Regions from separate parts of the Homo sapiens genome. Here region 1 is linked to region 2. Evidence: fine-mapped QTL for protein levels in blood plasma. A gene starts in region 2. The other region holds a variant in brackets. All regions are shown on one strand. Distances are between the middles of the regions.

Region 1 (10,669 bases), 88 kb after region 2:
CGTCTGCAGGATGGGGTCAGGGGCCTGGCAGGCTGGGCTGTTTGGCTGGGTGTGGGGACACTCCTGTTCATCAGCATGTCTCTCTCCCTAGACCAGCAAGGCCATCTCCAAAGGGGACTTCCGCCTGGCCAGCACCACCTCCCGCCGGGCCCTCTTCCTAGCCACACTCGCCATCGCCGTGGGGGCCGGTCTCTACGTGGCTGTGGTGGTGGCTCTGGCAGCTTACATGTCCCAGAACGGTCATGGCTAGTAGCCAGTAGGGCCTGCATCCTGACTCCCCTGCCCACCTGAGGAAGCAGTGGGGCTTGGAGTTGCAGACCCTATGGAAAGGCCCGGCCCCTGAAGATGATCCCGTGAGAGTGGCTTGCTGAGGGGGAGACCCCCATTCCACAGCCTGCAGAGCTCAGCCTTCACTTCTGCTTGCCCGCTGCTCCCAGCCCCAGAGCAGGGCCCGGGGCGCCACTCTCTAACCCAGGCTACAGACGGGAAACAGAAGGCAGGGCTGCCCACCAGGCCATCCCAGCAGGGCCTAGCTCCATCCATTCTGCCCATTCCCTAGAGGATCTCCTGCCCTACAGCCAGCCCACCACCTACCCTGCCAACCTCCCCACAGAGAAAGAGCAGGAGGTTACAGGGAGAAAAGGGGGTGCCCAGAGCACAAGGGGACCCGTCCCAATCCTTTCAGCCCACAGGGATCTTCACCTGGGGACAGCCTGAGCTTCCCCCAACTCCACTGTCTGGCCCCATCATGCCCAGACCTCAGCAGGCCAAGAAGGAAATACGTGGAGGCAAGGGGGCCTCTTGCTGTCTCTGATTCTAGAGGGTGCTTATCTCTGCATGGGCTTGTGAGGCACTGTAGATTCTAGATAGGGAAGAGGAGCCTCGGTATGTAAACTCTGAACCAAGGGCAGGTTCTTGGAGCTTCTTCATGCGGGTGCAAAAGGCAGTTGCAATGACAGAGAATAGAGGGTCCTGAAATATTGCTGTACTACATGACTCTTCCTACTCTCCCCCCACTCCCCGCCCCTATCATCCTTTTCTGGGCTTTGCCTGGGGGTCCGTGAGCTGGTGCCATCACAAGTAGACTAGACCCAGAGAGTGCCCTCAGCTCACCAGCCACTGAGCGCACGGCCCTAGGTCCAGCCCTACAGAAAACGCAGCAAGGAGAGACCCTAGGGAGTAGTGAGTATAGATGAGGGAAGGGACTCAGGGAAGGAATGGCCTGCTGAGTAGTCAGCGGTGCTTAGGAAGGCTTCCTGGAGGAGGTATCCCTTGAGCAAGTCCTAGGATGAATAGAATTCATCTAAGGGATTTGGTCACATAACTCTTTGTATTTGTAGGCAGGGATGTGGCAGGAACCTTCCATGGGAAGCTTCCAGGCTGTTTGGATTCTGCCTGGAACATCTGGGCTGGAGCCAAACTACAGCCATTCCTAAGGGTTCTGCCAACTCAAGGAGGAACGTCACACCTGTCTCTCAAAGACCAATGATGTTTTCCCATCTCTGAATGCTAGGGGGTCAGTGGTGGGTACCTGGTTACCCCTGGGGCATCTTCACTGATATCTCTGCTCAGTGCCAGTCTCAACACCCTCAGCCACTAGGGCACATCCAGAATTTTAGAGACATCTCCAGGTAGGCGGGGGGCAGCACCAATGTGGGCAGGCCTGTCTGGACTCAAGCTACAGGCCCCTGCTGTGCATGATGTGGGAACCTGGTCATTCCCATGCCCCATCCAGAGCCCAGGGCTGTGGCTCCACCACTGAGCATCCCTTGTCCCACTGTCCTCCCCTGCCTCGGGCACTGCCCAGCCCTCCACTCCTGCATCACAGCAGTTTTAAGGTCCCATTATTGTACTGATTTATCCTTGTAATAAATGTTTCTGTAACACCTGGTGCCCTCTAGGTATCTTGCTGTGCTACCTGCCCCGCCTTTGCCTGAATCCCATTCTTCTCCAAGACTGACCTGTTGCTATGTCTGCTGCTCTGACCCCTGGCAGCCTGCGGAGAGGACAAGCCCACGTA[T/C]GGGCCTTAGGAGGAGTGGTGGCCAGAGTGTCTGCACCATCCCAGGATTCCTCTGCTTGGAGTAGTCTGGCTGTAGAGTGATGGCCTGCATTTGGCTTGCTCTAGGCAAGCCAAAGCAAGATCCGTGCCTGGAAAAAAAGCCCTTCTAGGCTCAAGAGCCTTGGAGGACAGGGAGGAAGGGATGTGAGCCAAGGTGACTGAGGCTCCATGGAGCTGCCTGGAGCTACCAAGGGTGGATACAGGGTGTGAGGGGGCCAAGGAGTCCACGCCCCTGCTGCCTGCTCCTTCACCATCTCTTCCATCCCAGGAGCCGCTCCTGGACCATGTGGAGAGGAAGGCATCTCTGCCTGCCTCAGGCCCCAGCTCAGCACCAAATCTCCAATATCCTCTCAGACCTGAGCCCCCAGGAGCCTGCCTGGGCCAGCACAGGGACTGGCCTGGCCTCTAGGTCACTTGGATGGAGGGCCCTGGGGAGGCAGGTTATGCACATCCCATATCCACGTGTGCACCTACTTGTAAGACACAGCTGTGCACGTATGCACACACACATGCTGCATGGGTTGCGAACCCCAGAAACAGAGATTAGCCTGTGAGATGGATATGAGGGGCTGCTGTTGGGATAACGTTTGTAAAAGCATGGAGAGGGAGGCAGATCTGGGCAGAGGGAGAGGTCAGGCTGCAATGCAGTCCTGAATGACAGGCTGGGCCAACCCACAGGGGAGCCAGAGTTGACCCAAATTGGGGTGAAGAGCCAGGTCTTTCCACTCCCTCATTGACCAGTCATTAGATGTGGGCCACCCAGAAAGAGGGTGTGACCTCAGGCAAGGCAGTGGTCTTCAGCTGAGACAACACAAAAACATTTGCCCTGAAGACTGTTTGCTGCCAGGACCTGCAGCAGCTGGAAAGCTGTCCATCCTTCCTGAAGGGATCCTGAGTGGCATATCACCACGTCCACCACACCCACCCACCCAGCAGCAGACGCCCTGGTGCCCACCTAGATCCCCTCTGCATTCACCTCTTCACACTGAAGGCTGCTTCAGTCGTGTTCTACACAGGTTCCCTGGGCTCCCCAGTGGGCCTGAGCTCAGTTGCCTGCAGCAGCACTCTGCTTGATACATGCCCTTCATTGGCTGATTTCCTCACCCTGCCTCCTTCCCTACTCCCCAACTGTGCTTCCTGGGATCATCCCCCAATAAACCGCCTACAATTGAACCCTTGTCTCAGGGTTGGCTTCTGGGAGAAGCCAAACCCCGGCACACAGCATGCACGTTCACACGCACATGTACATCTTCCATATATATGCACACACTTGCACATACATGTACCCACACACAGGCATACACATACACATAGGCACAGCCACACACCACGCAAACCTTTGTGCACACACACGCACATGTACACAGGCACAGCCCACACATGCACAAAAGCTGTATGCACATACACACACACACACATGCACCATGTGCACATACAAGAGGTGAAGAAGGAGGCTCACACCTGTAATCCCAGCACTTTGGGAGGCTGAGACAGGAGGATTGCTTGAGCCCAGGAGTTCAAGACCAGCCTGGGCAACATAGTGAGACCCCATTTCCACAAAAAAAATTTAAAAACTAGCTGGTCGTGATGGATGATGGTGCATGCCTGTGGTCCCACTACTACATAGGAGGCTGAGGCAGGAGGATCGTTTGAGCCTGGGAGATTGAGGCTGCAGTGAGCCATGACCACACTACTGTACTCCTGCCTAGGTGACAGTGAGACCCTGTCAAAAAAAAAAAAAAGAGAGAGAGAGAGAGATTATTTTTAAAAAAGGAGGAAGAGAAGGAGGCATGGTGGCTGAGGAGTCTCACCTGGCCCTGCCTGCGCTGTGGTCCCACCCATCACCAGCCTGGCTGGGGCCCCGGAAAGGGCACTGGGCAGCATGCACCCTGGTCCATGCCCTGCTTGGGCTGGGCGGGCAGCCTCATGGTCCACAATTCTCACCTCCTTGCCAGCCCTCTGAAATGCTGTTCCAGGCTTTGAGAAGGGGAAAGAGAAGCCAAACAATTTTCTATCTTTTTTTTGCGGGTGGGGGGATGGAGTTTCACTCTTGTCGCCGAGGCTGGAGTGCAATGGTGCGATCTCGGCTCACTACAACCTCTGGATCCCAGGTTCACGTGATTCTCCTGCCTCAGCCTCCCGAGTATCTGGGATTACAGGCACATGCCACCACACCCAGCTAATTTTGTATTTTTAGTAGAGATGGGATTTCACCATGTTGGTCAGGCTGGTCTGGAACTCCTGACCTCAGGTGATCTGTCTGCCTCGGACTCCCAAAGTGCTGGGATTACAGGTGTGAGCCACAGCGCCTGGCCACAATTTTCTATTTTCAACCCTGGACCTGCCCCTCTCCTTTTCACCCCATCCCTACCCTCAGCTGCAAATTCAGGCTCTGTAGGAGAAAATGGAATAAGAAACGAAGCCCTTGGGGCCTCCCTCATGCAGCCCCTAGAAAGGATCCATCCTTTGGAGCCCAGGCTTGTCCTGATCAGTCCCTGGAGCACAGACACCCACCCACCCCCTTCCAGCTTAGGGCCGCCTCTGGCATGCCTGGGGCACTTGAGGCCTCCTGCTTCCCAGCTCTGCCTGCGTCTGGCTGCCTGAGGCCCCTGGGAGGCATAGGGGCTTCAGCTACTCCCCTTCAGGCTGGTTCCTCAGGCTGGCAGAGACAGGCTGGGGGCAGGGAGGGTCCCCTGGGTAAAGGTGCCCGTGACGAGCTGCAATGCCAGCACATCTGTGCAAATATTACCAATTATTTTCCTCACTATAAACACCCAGCAGGAAGACAGAGAAGCAACCAACCCAAACTGTTCAAAATAGAAACTGAAATTGCTGCACAGGGAAGTCGGGGCAGCCAGCAGAGTGGGGGCCCTGCACCAAGAACCCAGCCCCGGTCCCCGCAGCTGCCCTGATGCTGGACCTGCTCTGGCTGACCCCACCCTCCAACCCCATCTCAACTTTCTCCCCTACAGGCCAGGCTGGAATGGGATGGAAAAGGGCCTCACCTAGGGGATGTGGGATATAAGGGAGGGTAGCCAAATGGGCCCTGTGTGGGGGTGGGCAGATGGCAGAGGGGGCAGCCACAGAGGAGCCAGGAACTGAGGCCACCTGGCCTGTGGTCCAGGACAGCTGCTGGGCAAGTGGAGCCACGGGGGCTGTGGGCAAAGGAGTGGGAGGAGAGCCTCCCTTCACTGTTCCCCAGCCCCAGGGAAGAAGGGGTGTCCTAAGGGTGGCAGGCCAGGGGTCCTGGGGGCTGGACCCAGGGGAAACAGTGACCTGGCCCCACTCCGAGTGACAAGAATTTTTCCGATGGTGGGAAGGACTAGAAACCCACTCCCAGAACCCCGGCAGCCTTCTCCATCTCTTCCTCCCGATGAACAGGGCGGATAGACAGCAGGTCCATGGACATAGTTGCAGGGATTGTCAGAACAGTGAAAATACTTCCACAGTAGTTGATAAACAGGCCAAGCCCTAAACCCTCCCAGTGTTTCCCTCTCCTGCCTCCCTGGCCCCTCCCCAGAACTCCAGACTTCTCTGCTTCAGGAACTGAAGTGTTAACAGCTGACACAGGGCCCCGCCCCCTCCCAAATGCGTCTGTCCATGCCTGACTGCCCTGGTGGCTAAACGGCTCTGATGTTGCCCCTGGGCACATGCACCACTCATCAGTGTGCCCCTGCACCCTGCTGCTTCCCAGAGACAGACTCAGCACAGTCCCTGAACCCCACTCAGAAGGTGGGGCAGGGGTCAGTGGCCAAAGGTGTGAGTCCTGGAACGCTGCAGCAGGAAGGAACCCGGGAGGTGATCTAGTCACAATCCCTCATGCTACAGATGAGACAACAGAGACCCAGAAAGGGTTGCCAGTTGCCCAGTGTCACACAGCAAGTCACGAGCCAAGCCCAGGCCTTGCCTCACAGGCCCTGGAGTTGCTGAGCTAGGCTGGTGATGTCTGCTTGCCTTGGAAACAGAAAACCCAGGGACAACTGCCGCTGCTGCCCAGTGAATATTAACAAACTTGCTTCTCTCAGCCTTCCTTCCCCGGCTGTTTCCGGCTTCAAAGGCTTCCCCGGCTGGCCCCTCCCTGGGGCTGACACCTTGGCCCTTCTATTTTTGGTGGCTTGGTAGGGGTGGGGCAGGAGAGCGACAGCCTTGCTTTTGCCTGCCCTGAGCTCATGGCAGCCCCCGGGTGCTCTCTCATCCTCTCTGCCATGGGGGGAGGAGCTACTCTGGGCGGGGGAGTCCCCACGGGGAGACTCAGATGTTCTGAACAAAAATAAAAGGTGCTCGTGTGGCCCATCTGCATTTCCAAATACTTCCAGCCCACATCCCTTGAACTGCTTTTACCTCTCTCCCACTAAAGAGCCAGGCAGGTTTCAAAGCCAGTTCTAGCTCCTCCAGGAAATGACAGAGAAAGAAACTCCCAGGGGGCAGGATCCCTCAGAGGCAGCCAGAAGGGGACAAAGGGGACAGTGAGTGTGCTTGCACCAGTGGGCAGGGCTGGGGTGAGGCAGCAGGGCCAGGCTACGTTGACAGAGCACCCTGGGTGCACAAAGGACCTTCACACCACTCTTTCTACCACTGAGGCTGGTGTTCTTGTCCCCATTTCACAGACAGGAAGACTGAGGACCTCGAGGCCTTTCCCAGTTCCACAGATCAGTGAATGGTGCCTCGTCCTCTGGGAGCCTGCTGTGGCTCCACCCTCACCCACTGCCTCCCTTCCTGAAGCCAACTCCTGGCCATTTTCCCTCATTAACCTCCGCCAGCCCTGTCCCTAACACTTGCGCTCAGAGCTGGCTGGCCCAGAGCACAGCCCAGTGGTTAACAGCAGAGAAGAGGGGAGCCCACCACCCAGTTCAAATCCCATCCCCAGCCTCTGTGCAACTTCGGGTAAGATGTTGCTTGGTGTTTTCTCATCTGGAAAACGGGGATCGTGATGGTGACTGACCCCGTTAAGATGACTGTGAATATTACATGAATTAACACTTGTATGGCTCCCGCAAAATTGAGTGTCTCGTAAGTGCTATATGGAATTTCTTTAAAATTATCTCCAGCTGACCACCATTTAAATGGCTTCCCTGCCAGAAGTGTGTCACCTCCCTCAGCCCCATCCCTTCCATAGCCAGAGATAATAGCCAAAGTCCTGATAGCTCTGGTCCCTGCTGGTCTCTGGGCAGATCTCGGCTGGCAGCAAGCTGAAGGCAGGGCCTGTTTCCCGTCTCGCTGCCTTTGTTTAGGCTGCTCCCCCTGCCTGTAATTCTGGTATCTGCCTCCACACCCTGAGATTCTTTTCCTCCAAACTGATAAAAATAATTTTCCAAGACACGTCTCAAGAAAACCTCATTTTCTCGGCAGCTGTTTCTGTCAACTCACCCCAGCCCCAACACCAGGTAGAACTAGCCACCCTCTTTCGTGAACCACCGCTACACCTGTTCATATCGACATGACGGCCACATCTAGACATCTGCTTTTCTGAGGGTGGAGCTCGTGTTTGCTCAGGGCATCCCAGGTCTGACGTGGGGACTGCCTTCCACAGACACTCGACCCTTGTTCACTGTTGACATCACTGGGAAAGAAGTGACTTGCCTCCAGGCTGGAGGGAGTCGGGGCAAGGTTCTTTCCACTTTAATTTCCTCTTCAATGGGAAAATCATCCACATCTTGGGGTAGATGGGAGCAGGGAGGAAGTCTCTAGGTGGCAAGGACTTTACAATTCCGAGGACGATCAAAGAGACCAGAAAGAGCAGTATGAGCCCGTGGGGTGCCCAGCCTGGTGGTATCTGCAAAGGGACACAGCACAGAACTTTACCCACCTCCTCCCCTCTTTCATCAGGGATGCCATAAAGACCACCCTTCTGGTGCTGCAAGGTCTGTGCTCTGTAGGAAGAATAAACAAGGGGAACAAAGAAGCCAGAGCAGCTGCTCACTGCTCTCCTCCTCTGGTCTCCCCCAGGCTGTGGGCTGAGGATAGAGAAGAGGTTCTTCCTTGGTTTCCTCTGCACCCAACTTAGCCCCTGGGTCACCCCCAACCCCCATTGTCCAAAGGAGCCTACAAGTCTGGGTACCACTGGCCTGTCCACAGTCACCTCTGAAGACCAAGGCCAGAAACAGGAGCACTTTCCCATCCTTCACCAAGTCCTGTGACTCTACCACTCCCCAATCTCCCCGACTCTATTTCCTGCTATCTCTATCTCCAAGCCCTAGTCCAAGCCCCCATCAGCTCTTACTCAGACTCCTGCAAAACCTCCTAAATGACCTATCACATGATGCAACATGGATGAACTTTAAGGAGATCAGGCTAAGTGAAATAAGCCAGTCTCCAAAGAACAAATACTGGATGATTCCATTTATGTGAGGTACCTCGGGTAGTCACATTCCTAGAAAGAGAAAGAAGAATGGTGATTGCCAGGAGCTGGGGGAGGGAAAAACTGGGATTTGTTTAATGGGCATAGAGTGTCAGCTTTGCAAATTGAGAAAGTTCTAGAGATCTGTTGCAAAACAACATGCATGTACTTAATTGTACTGAACCGTACACTTAAAATGGGTAAGATGGTAAATTTTATGCTATGTGTTTGTTTTGTTTTGTTTTGAGACAGAATCTTGCTCTGTCTCCCAGGCTGGAGTACAGTGGCACAATCTCTGCTCACTGCAACCTCTGCCTCCCAGATTCAAGTGATTCTCATGCATCAGCCTCCCAAGTAGCTAGGACTAAAGGCGCATGCCACCACACTCAGCTAATTTTTGTATTTTCAGTAGAGACGGGGTTTCGCCATGTTGGCCAGGCTGGTCTCGAATTCCCAACCTCAAGTGATCCCCCCACCTCGGCCTCCCAAAGTCCTGAAGTGCTGGAATTACAGGCGTGAGCCACCACACCTGGCAAGAAATTTTAAACATAGTTTATCTGTTTCCTTGTAAGTACCTTAGAGCAAGCTTGTCCAACCTGTAGCCTACACAGCCCAGGACAGCTTTGAATGCTGCCCAACACAAATTCGTAAACTTTCTTGAAACATTATGAAGTGTGTGTCAGTGTGTGTGTGTGTGCACGCACGTGTGTTTAGCTCATCAGCTATCGTTATTATTAGTGTATTTCATGTGTGGCCTAAGGCAATTCTTCTTCTAGTGTGGCCCGGGGAAGCCAAAAGATCGGACACCCCTGCCTTAGAGTAGGGGAGCGCTGTAATTGACACATCTCTTATTTGAGAAGTAGTGTCTGTTGCCCTTATCAGGTTTAATTACAAAATTTGATCATGATCATATTGTAGCCTCTCAAAGTGCTCTAGAAATTGTCAGTGGTATACATGAAGCGGCAGTGGTGTCTGGTGCACTCTGAAATGCTATCAAAGTTGTACATATTTCCAAACATTTTTAAAATGAAAAGGCACTCTTGTGTTCTCATTCTGTGCGCTTTGCTATTGGAGTGACAAGGCATTTAAAGATGTTTCTGGCTTTTTTTTTTTTAATAAGGTGGTGTTAACTATCTGGTTATTGACTAGAAATCCTGAGTTATCAATTGTATATCTGTACGGTTTGTAAAAAGAACAAAACAACCAAGGCAGACTCTTGACGGCTCCTTGCTTGGCATTGAGGCTCTGGGGGAAGATGCCTTTTGGAGGGGCTGTAGCTCAGGGCGTGCACTGTGAATCTGGACCTGTTGACTCTGCAGGGCTTCCATTTAGCTTCAAGTTGTCTTGTTTCTGCATATAGTGACGGAGCATTCTGCTGCCATTCTTAGCTGTGGACAAAGAGGGTCAGCCGGCATGAGAAGTGTTTGGGGGGTTTAGTTTGTTTGTTTTAGTTAAGTGTGGTAATTTTTAAACTTTTTTTTTTTTTTTTGAAACAGGGTCTCACTCTGTTACCCAGGCTGGAGTGCAGTGGCGTGACCTCGACTCACTGCAGCTTTAACCCCCTGGACTCAGGTGATCCTCCCACCTCAGCCTCCTGAGTAGCTGGGACTACAGGCACCTGCCACCATGCCAGGCTAATTTTTGTATTTTTTTGTAGAGACAGGGTTTTGTCATGTTGCCCAGGCTGGTCTCGAACACCTGGGCTCAAGTGATCCACCCACTTTGCCCACCTCGGCCTCTCAAAGTGCTAGGATTATAGGCATGAGCCACCACGCCCAGCAGAAAACTGTTTTTAAACAAACTGTAGAACTCCTCATTATCAGCAAAGCAAGAGACATCACGTCAATGAAAGTTCAAGAACCGTCTGTATTTAAACACGATTTGTAATGTTCTGTTATTTTTTGTATGTTGAGAATGCTGAAATGTGTTTGAAGTTAAACAAATGTATTACATGTTTTAAATATTCTAATGCTATTATAAATCTGCCCAGTCTCTTTTCGAGGATGATTTTAATGCGGGGAGGAAAAAAAAGCAACCCTCTGAAATGTTCTCCCTGCCTCCTCCCTGGCCTCTTTTTAGCTACATTGAATTTTCCTGAAGGCAAATTTGGTCGAGTCATCCTCCCTTGATTAAAGCTTTCAAAGGACATCTATTTCTCTTAGATAAAAAACCAAACTAACCTGCTTATGAGCCCCTGCCACTTCACACCACAACCCAAGCTCCCTGCACCTCACCATGTCTGCCTTCCTTCAGCCCTTCACACTTGCAGGGCC
Region 2 (8,229 bases):
CTGAAAAGACAGGAGGAAGGCATTAAGGAGTATCGCAAACACAAAAAAGACACCCCCTGAGCCCAGAGGTGCACATCCTCTGTTTTCTAAAGTACAGAGGGAGCTTCCCCATTACCTTTAACAGGTGCTGATTTTCTTTGAGGCAAAATGATTCAATGGAATAAATACTGGGAAACGTGTAGGGACTTAAGCCTGGAATCTAGTCCGGCCTGACTTTCTACCGACTACCCAATGGACCTGGGCAGATCAATTTTGCTCCTATAACTTAGTTACTTTGATTCAGAACAACAAACCTTTACTGCATCCTCACTGTGAGACGGGCGGTGTTAACCATCCCAGGTAAACCCTTTAAATTTGGAATAAAAGTGCACCTTAAACTGGAGACACTTTTGTCCCTCCTGTACCTCCTTTGGGGGCCCACCCCTTCCTCCTTGCCTGTCGTCGGGGTTGATAACTGTATCCAGTGAAAATTTGTATTGGAATCCGGAGCATCCACCTCCCTCCACTTGCAGCCTGAGGAATTCTGACCCTTCGGTGATTTCCAAAAGCCTCTGAAATGCAGGAAGGGGGATCAAGAATAGCGGGAAACGGGAGTTAAAGGGCTGAGTGAAGAGCAGTTCCCGCTGCTCCCGCCAATCGCCTGGGTACCGCCGCTCCGCGTCCGGCCTCCTACCTGGACGCAACTGTCTGTGAGGCGGATCTGCCCTTCGCCGGCCTCGGGGCTGGAGGACGACGCCTCCCGACGCGCCTGGGGTCCCAGGGAGGCCGTGAGGAGCCTGCGCGCAAGGGAGGAGGGTGAGCCCGGGAGCAGAAGGGGCACCTTGCAACCCTCGACCTGGAGCGCCTCACGCTAAACCTGGCGACCCCCACCTGGACGGCCTCCCACCAAACCCTCGCATCCCCCACAGGCCTTAGTTTCCCATTTGTCCTAGAGGCGCAGAACCAAACACCCTTTCCAGGTGCCTTTCTAGTCTTGGTACCTGCCCCTCGGCCAGGGAGTGACCGCTCTCTGCGTCGCGGCCGTTAGGGACGACCCCCAGGCGGCAGCCATCTTCCTCCACAAGCTCCGCCCCTCGCGTCTCCCCCGTTTCTCACCCGGGGCCTCGGGAGGCGGAGAGAACGAACAGGAGGCCGGGACTTCACGGAGGCCCCGCCCCCCCAACATGCCTATTGGGTAGTGCGGGAGGAGAAGGTGTCTGATTGGCTAGGAATGCTCCAGACGGCAGCGGCGGGGACGCACCCAGGAAGCCGGAGAGGTGCTCTAAAGGGAAGGAACGGGGCGGGGAGGAGTGAGGCGGGGCGGGGCGGAGGTGGGTCCGGGCGGGTCAGGCCTCTGAGGGGATGGCATGGGCGGAGACTGCAGGCTTCTGGGCCTGAGAGGGCTGGAGCTGGCTTTCCGGAGCCGGGGGCGGGGCGCGGGCGGGCCTCAGCTGTGGTTACTGGTGACAGGTCGCCTGACTGGGCTCCTCCCCGGGCCCGCCCCGACAGGTTTGTCTTGTGACCGCGGGCGGCCGCTGCTTCTTTCCCGAGCTTGGAACTTCGTTATCCGCGATGCGTTTCCTGGCAGCTACATTCCTGCTCCTGGCGCTCAGCACCGCTGCCCAGGCCGAACCGGTGCAGTTCAAGGACTGCGGTGAGCCCCAGGCCCGCCCAAGGTTCCCGCGCCCTCTGTGGAAGGCCCCGCCGGACCCCCGCGCTGAGACCCCTGGGGCTGGGCTGGGCGGATCCCTCGGGCGGCCAGGCTGAGCCTTGGACCCTACCTAACTGGAATGGGCTGGGTCGGGGGAGAAGGCGCCGGCCTCCATGAAACCCGACCGCGCACAACTTTGTTTCTTTCCTTAGAACGCGTGTTTTGGGGTTCCTGGGAACTCCAGGAGGTGGGCCTTTTGCTGAAGTTTCCTAAAGTTTGTAGGGCGGACAACAGAAGGGCTGTATCCAGCTCTGGTGGAGGGGTGGAGCACAGAACTTCTTTTTATTTATGCTTTGTATCTTGGAATCCCGCCTCCCCCTTCCAACTCCTTTTGCTTTTCTTTTAATTTCGTTTTTGCTGACAAGTCAAAAGTCAATTCCCCTTTTTCATCATTTATTGTTACAAATAGGACTTCCTTTGGGCTTTGGAATCTTGTGATTCTTAATCAGTTTTTCCTTGTATAAATCTCATTGTGTCTCTAATCACAGCTTGTGATACATAACTCCCTCTCGCCGCTGTGGTTGGAATCTTTGTTGGAAAATACAACAGGTGGTAGAAATTCTGAGTGCCTTCATTGAGTCGAGTCTATAGAATTGTCGGAACAGAAACTCGAGCAATGTTGTTCAGAGGTGGAGATAGAGAGATAGAACTGTCAATGAAAGAGGCATGAAACTGACTTTGTAAGATCTATGAGTGGAAAGGAAGCACGGAGATCGTATAATCAATCATTGAATTCCAGGGATGTTGGGTAGCCTACCTAAAGTCACGCAGCAGAATGGGGAGCCAGAGTAAGTGTAACCGCCCAAGGGGTTCACCTTGCGCATTGCCTAGACAGAGCGGATTTATCAAGATGGGATTTGCAGTGGCGAAAAGAGTAATTCACGCAGAGCCGGCTGTGGGGGAGGCCGGAGTTTTATTGTTACTCAGATCAGTCTCCCCGAGCATTCGGGGATCAGAGTTTTTAAGGATAATTTGGCGGGTATGGGCTTGGAAAGTGGGGAGTGCTGATTGGTCAGGTTGAAGATAAAATCATAGGAGAGTCGAAGTGAGTTCTTCTTGCTGACCTCTGGGTGGTGTCATTTGCTGCATCGGAATGCAGGATCTGCAAAATATCTCAAGCACTGACCTTAGGTTTTACAATAGTGATATCATTACCAGGAGCAATTTGGGGAGGTTCAGACTCTTACAGCCAGAGGCGGCGTGGCCCCTAAACTCGTAGCTAATTTGTTAGTCCTACAAAGGCAGACCGGTCCCCAGGCAAGAAGGGGTTTTTCAGGAAAGGGCTATTATCCATTTCGTTTCAGAGTTTAAACTATAAATTCCTCTCCAAGACTAGTTCAGCCTACACCCAGGAATGAACAAAGACAGTTTAGAGGTTAGAAGGAAGATGGGTAGGTGAGTCCTGATCTCTTTCACTGTCTTAATTTCCTCAGGATTTTTGCAAAGGCGGTTTCATAAGTTTGCTGCTTTATATCCAGTGCCCAGGTAATAGTAACTGCTCAATGAAATGTGTTGAAAACATAGATGGAAATCTTTTTCCCCTATGTCATAAAAATTCATGTTGAGACAAAAGCAAAGTTGGGGATTAGGGGACAGGATTGATTAAGGAATGGAGTGCTGGCCGATTAACACTTAAATGCTATTCCATTGATTTAGGAGACTGGCACTTGAAAGCTATTATCGCTTCAAATTACTGCCTTTCCCTCCATTAAACTTAGTAGCCAGCGTTTGGATGAAGACACTATTAATTTTAATAACTCATTCCGGCCAGGCACAGTGGCTCACACCTGTAATCCCAGCACTTTGGGAGGCCAAGACGGGCAGATCACGAGGTCAAGAGATTGAGACCATCCTGGCCAACATGGTGAAACCCCATCTCTACTAAAAATACAAAAATTAGCTGGGCATGGTAGTGTGCACCTGTAGTCCCAGCTACTCGGGAGGCTGAGGCAGGAGAATCGCTTGAACCCGGGAGGTGGAGGTTACAGTGAGCCAAGATCACGCCACTGCACTCCAGCCTGGCGACAGAGCAAGACTCCGTCTCAAAAAAATAAAATAAAATAAAATAACTCATTCCATCCTCACAAGCTGTCTTACAGATGAGGAAAGCGAAGCACATAGAGTAACTTGCCCAAGATCTCACACCCAGTAAGTGGTAGGAAACCGTGGGTCTTTGTGAGCCACTTTGGGTTTCCAAAAAAAGAAGGGAAATAAATCCAGAAATTATTCTACTTATTTGAAAAAGCAGGAGTACACCTATGGGAAGAAGCTTTTAAAGGGAAGAAGGGTTTCAGTTACAGATTTATAATTTACTTTTGAATTGGGAAATATGATATAAAGACTTCAGTGCCCACATCAAAGATTTTTGTGTTCCACTCTACACCCACCTTCCCTGGCGTGGGATTTCCTCAAGTGAGAAAGTGGACCAAGCAAACTAATTTTGTAATGTTTGCTGGTTAGAACAGAGGAGTTTGTTCTATTGACACTGGAAGTCTAAGAACCTCTTGTCATCAGAAAACTGGATGAAAGAGCTATAAGTACTACCCTTTACTTACTTCCTACTAGATTATGTGACTCAGCCTTGAAAGAAGCAGGTGGAAGCTGGACATTGAAAGCCTTAACATTAGCACTGATTTTCAATAGATTGTTGATTGAAGTTCGGGATTTCTTTTTTCCCTATTCACCAAAAATGGGTTGGAGTGGAAGAGAGTGTTTCTCAAACTGTTTTGGATGCTTAAGAGTGTGTGCAGTTTAAGAACTTTGCAATGATGGAGAAGCAAGCTGAGGGATAAAGGACTGCAAGGTACTATTTACTGACCTAGCTGGAGCAGTGTTGGTCAGTGTGATGATAGTTAAAGAGACTGTTCCACCCAAGGGTAGGTACAGGCAGCAAAGAACATCTACTTAGATTTCTGAGTTCATATCATACTTTTATAGTACTGAGCTAATCTGGTGACTGACTGCATAGCAGATAATGTACTCTCAACCTGCAGTTTGCCTCTGTCTTCATGCATTCCACTTTTGAGACAGAAAGAGTCCATCCTATTGGCTAGAAACATAATTTCTATCCACAAAGTATATTTGAGGTGAGAGGTCCAGTTTTTGTGTCAGAAGGGAACTTGCTAACCTACCCAGGAGCAGCTATTCTAGATTAAACTCATGGACTAAATCCAGATATGATAATAATAGTAAATATATGTATCACTATGTTCCAAACACTTACCTAAGATCTGTATTTGTGTTAGCTCAGCTACACCATTATCTCCAGAGAGGTAAAGTATCTTGCCTTGAGGCTATACAGTAAGTAGCAGAGATAGTGAGATTTCAAACCCAGGCATCCGGCACCAGAGTCTGCCTCTCAGCAATGATGGCTGAATGGCAGAACTTAACTTACCCTGTTACAGGCACTGTTATCAGGCAGTTCACCTGCATTCTCTCCCATTCAACTGCCCAGTCTCTGGGGCAGGAGGAAATGGGATTTTTAAAGGCTTTATTTAAACCTTTTTTGGTCAAGCATTTATTGTATACAAGTACTTTTGTCCTTGGTTAGACTGAGATTAAAATACATACATACACACACAGACACACACACACACACTTATTTTAAGAACGCAGGTTCCCAAAATCGAGTATACATCTGTAGATTGCAGATGTGTGCTTAAAATCAGTTTTTGAAACTACTTAGAAACAACCTGGACAAGTCAGATGAATCCAATTTCTTTTCTTAAATTTTTTAATTTTGAAAAATATGTATTTGTTTTGAGGATTCCCAGGGATAAATCCTATTTCTGACTCTTTCTAGTACCTTCTTAGGTCTCATCCTTATGTTTTTAACATATGCAGTATTTGCAAGTGTATCATTCCCAGCAGCTATATAGACCTAGGCCAAGTTAATATTTCAGAGGAAATGAAACCCAGACTCAGGTAGCAGTATTCTTCTTTAATGCAGCTGGCACTTCTGCCATCTTGGCTGTGTGAGTCAGTGCTATTTGGAGTTAAGCTTAACTTGTGCCCTAAGCTTGTACTGAAACTATAAAGACCTTAACCTCTGTACTCCTCTTCATCCCCTTGATTCTTGGAAAAAATCCAGATCTTAACAACCTTAGTCAAGATTTAAGGTACTTCCTGTTGTTTTTGGAGCCAAAATATTTCATGACTCATAAGTGGGCCTTAAAGAACAGGACTAAATCATTGAAGAAACTGCAGAAGTGCAGTGAAAATGGTGCAGTTCCCAATTCAGAAGTGGGAGGTAGTTCCTCTCTTAAGGGTCATTCCTAGTTCAGAGATGGTAGGTGGTTTTTCTGTTTAGGGTCACTCCTCTGTTCAGTGTTAAGTGGTAGTTCCTCTTAAATTCCATAGTCTGCTTACTCGGAAGTGAGTAGGCTTCTGGAATCAGTCTTATTTTATTTTATTTTATTTTTTGAGACAGAGTCTTGCTCTGTCACCCAGGCTGGAGTGCAGTGGCGCAATCTCGGCTCACTGCAACCTCTGCCTCCCCAGTTCAAGCGATTCTCCTGCCTCAGCCTCCTGAGTAGCTGGGATTACAGGTGAGCACCACCATACCTGGCTAATTTTTGTATTTTTATTAGAGACGAGGTTTCACCATGTTGGTCAGGCTGGTCTCGAACTCTTAACCTCTTGATCCACCTGCCTTGGCCTCCCAAAGTGCTGGGATTATAGGCATGAGCCACCATGCCCACCCTTGAATCAGCCTAATTTTAAAAGCCAAGACTGATATTCTGACACTTTTCATCGTTTTACCTATACCTTTAATAGTGCTGCTTATTTCTCTAGGAAGTCAAGTTGGGGTGAAAGAAAGAAGGGATTCCAGGAAGACAAAATACTGGGCAAAGGATTTACCAGCAGTTTGGGAGAAAGGGTACAAAATCTGGATAGAAGATACTTCATCACTGAAAATCACAGAGGATATAGGGGTTGAACCTCTACGATAGAAAGAGAATCATGGTGAGGGGCAAAGAGGCGATGCTGAATTAAGAAACCTGAAAAGTTGAGTTTGAGACAGACCTTCATCCAGAGTCCTCAAGTAGTTCTCAGATGCAAATTTCCTTGGGGTGTCCTTCCATTCATCAACATGGCTGCGTATTTAAAGCTTCTTTCAGGTTCCGGTAACAAGGGCTTCCAAGTCAGGCCCACCCATTGAGTCTTCGATCTGCCCCTTCCAGGCAATGTGACCTTGGACAAATCTCAGTAATCTTTGCTCTTCTGGTTTCTAACCCCTAAAACAAGGATGATAAATACCATTGTTGTGAGATGTTTTCTTCAGATGCCTCTGCTTTCCTTCATTCTTGCTAGTCAAGGTACAATTTCCATAGAGTCTAAAAATGAATGATTCAGGAACTAAAAACTCTTGAAGCCAGATTCAAGAAAGGTTCAGTCTGTTTTGGGATCTGGCAGACTTTCCAAGCAATAATAGCAGACTCCCTCAATCAGTGTTTGCTCATGTAGAACTTGAGGTAGAAAGATGTTGTAATTCATTTCTGATCTTCCTCCGCGGAGTTTCAGGCTCTACATTTGCTTTCTAGCTGTTTCCGCATAAAGTGCGGTTTTTGGCCAGGTGCGGTGGCTCATGCCTGTAATCCCAGGACTTTGGGAGGCCAAGGTGGGCAAATTGCTTGAGCCTAGGAGTTTGAGACCAGCCTGGGCAACATGGTGAAACCCTGTCTCTACAAAACACAAAAATTAGCCGGGTGTGGTGGTGCATGCCTATTGTTCTAGCTACTCAGGAGGATGGAGTAGGAGGATCACTTGAGCCTGGGACGGTTGAGGCTGCAGTGAGCTGAGATTGTGCCATTGCATCTAGCCTGGGTGACAGAGTGAGACCCTGTCTCAAAAAAAAAAAACAAAAAAAAACCACAAAAACAAAACAGGGAGGGTGCAATGACTCACGCCTGTAATCCTAGCACTTTGGGAGGCCTAGGCAGGCAGACCACGAGGTCAGGAGATCAAGACCATCCTGGCCAACATAGTGAAACCCTGTCTCTACTAAAATACAAAAACTTAGCCGGGCATGATGGCACTCGCCTGTAGTCCCAGCTACTCAGGAGGCTGAGGCAGGGAATGGTTTGAACCCGGGGGGTGGAGGTTGCAGTGAGCTGAGACTGTGCCACTGCACTCCAACCTGGTGACAGAGCAAGACTCCATCTCAAAAAAAAAAAAAATGTAGTTGTTCCTGTAGTGAACAACTTTCATCAGATTTACATGCTAATCTATATGCTAGAAAAAGAAAGGGAAAATAGGAATATTTTCATCCAAAGGAAGGTTGAAGCAAACGTCTTCAAGGTTTAAGTTTAAACTGTGACCCTTACCATTAAGAATGCGAGATAAGACTCTAGGAATGTTTGGAATTTCTCTGATTGAAGTTTAATTCCTTTAATATGATCATTTATGGATATGGTCTTGATATTATTTAGTTTGACAAATATTAACTTTCTCTTGATCAAAAAACCAACTAGCTTCTTTATCATCTGAATTAAAGGCTATGATTTTAGCAGCAAGATGAATCAAGATTCTGACTTCTA

Which allele goes with the higher level. Positions count from the first base shown, and alleles are read on the strand shown. Strength reflects both the effect of a copy and how common the allele is.
For the plasma level of the protein whose gene starts at base 1,521 in region 2, T is the high allele of the variant in region 1 and C is the other (strong association).

The links. PIP is the chance, under the fine-mapping model, that this variant and not a neighbour inherited with it causes the effect. Protein levels are from antibody-based Olink assays in UK Biobank. Linkage for the fine-mapping came from a reference panel and not from the study's own genotypes, which makes the PIPs less certain.
Region 1: its variant is fine-mapped to the plasma level of the NPC2 protein (UK Biobank, PIP above 0.99).

What each region holds. Positions count from the first base shown.
Region 1 is chr14:74,397,116-74,407,784 of GRCh38, reverse strand. SYNDIG1L (synapse differentiation inducing 1 like) reads left to right here. Exons shown (of 4, transcript NM_001105579.2): 4 at 92-1,886. The coding sequence ends at 250. Among named protein-coding and RNA genes, the nearest start is that of SYNDIG1L, 24 kb to the left of the region's middle. RefSeq lists enhancers at 146-647, 5,777-6,106, 5,324-6,233. The variant T/C (reference allele first, on the strand shown) is at 2,021.
Region 2 is chr14:74,486,597-74,494,825 of GRCh38, reverse strand. NPC2 (NPC intracellular cholesterol transporter 2) reads left to right here and starts at 1,521. Exons shown (of 5, transcript NM_006432.5): 1 at 1,521-1,633. The coding sequence starts at 1,552. ISCA2 (iron-sulfur cluster assembly 2) reads right to left here and starts at 1,061. Exons shown (of 4, transcript NM_194279.4): 1 at 981-1,061; 2 at 674-776; 3 at 436-551. The coding sequence starts at 1,051. RefSeq lists enhancers at 979-1,058, 5,837-7,036 and silencers at 1,259-1,538, 1,709-1,768.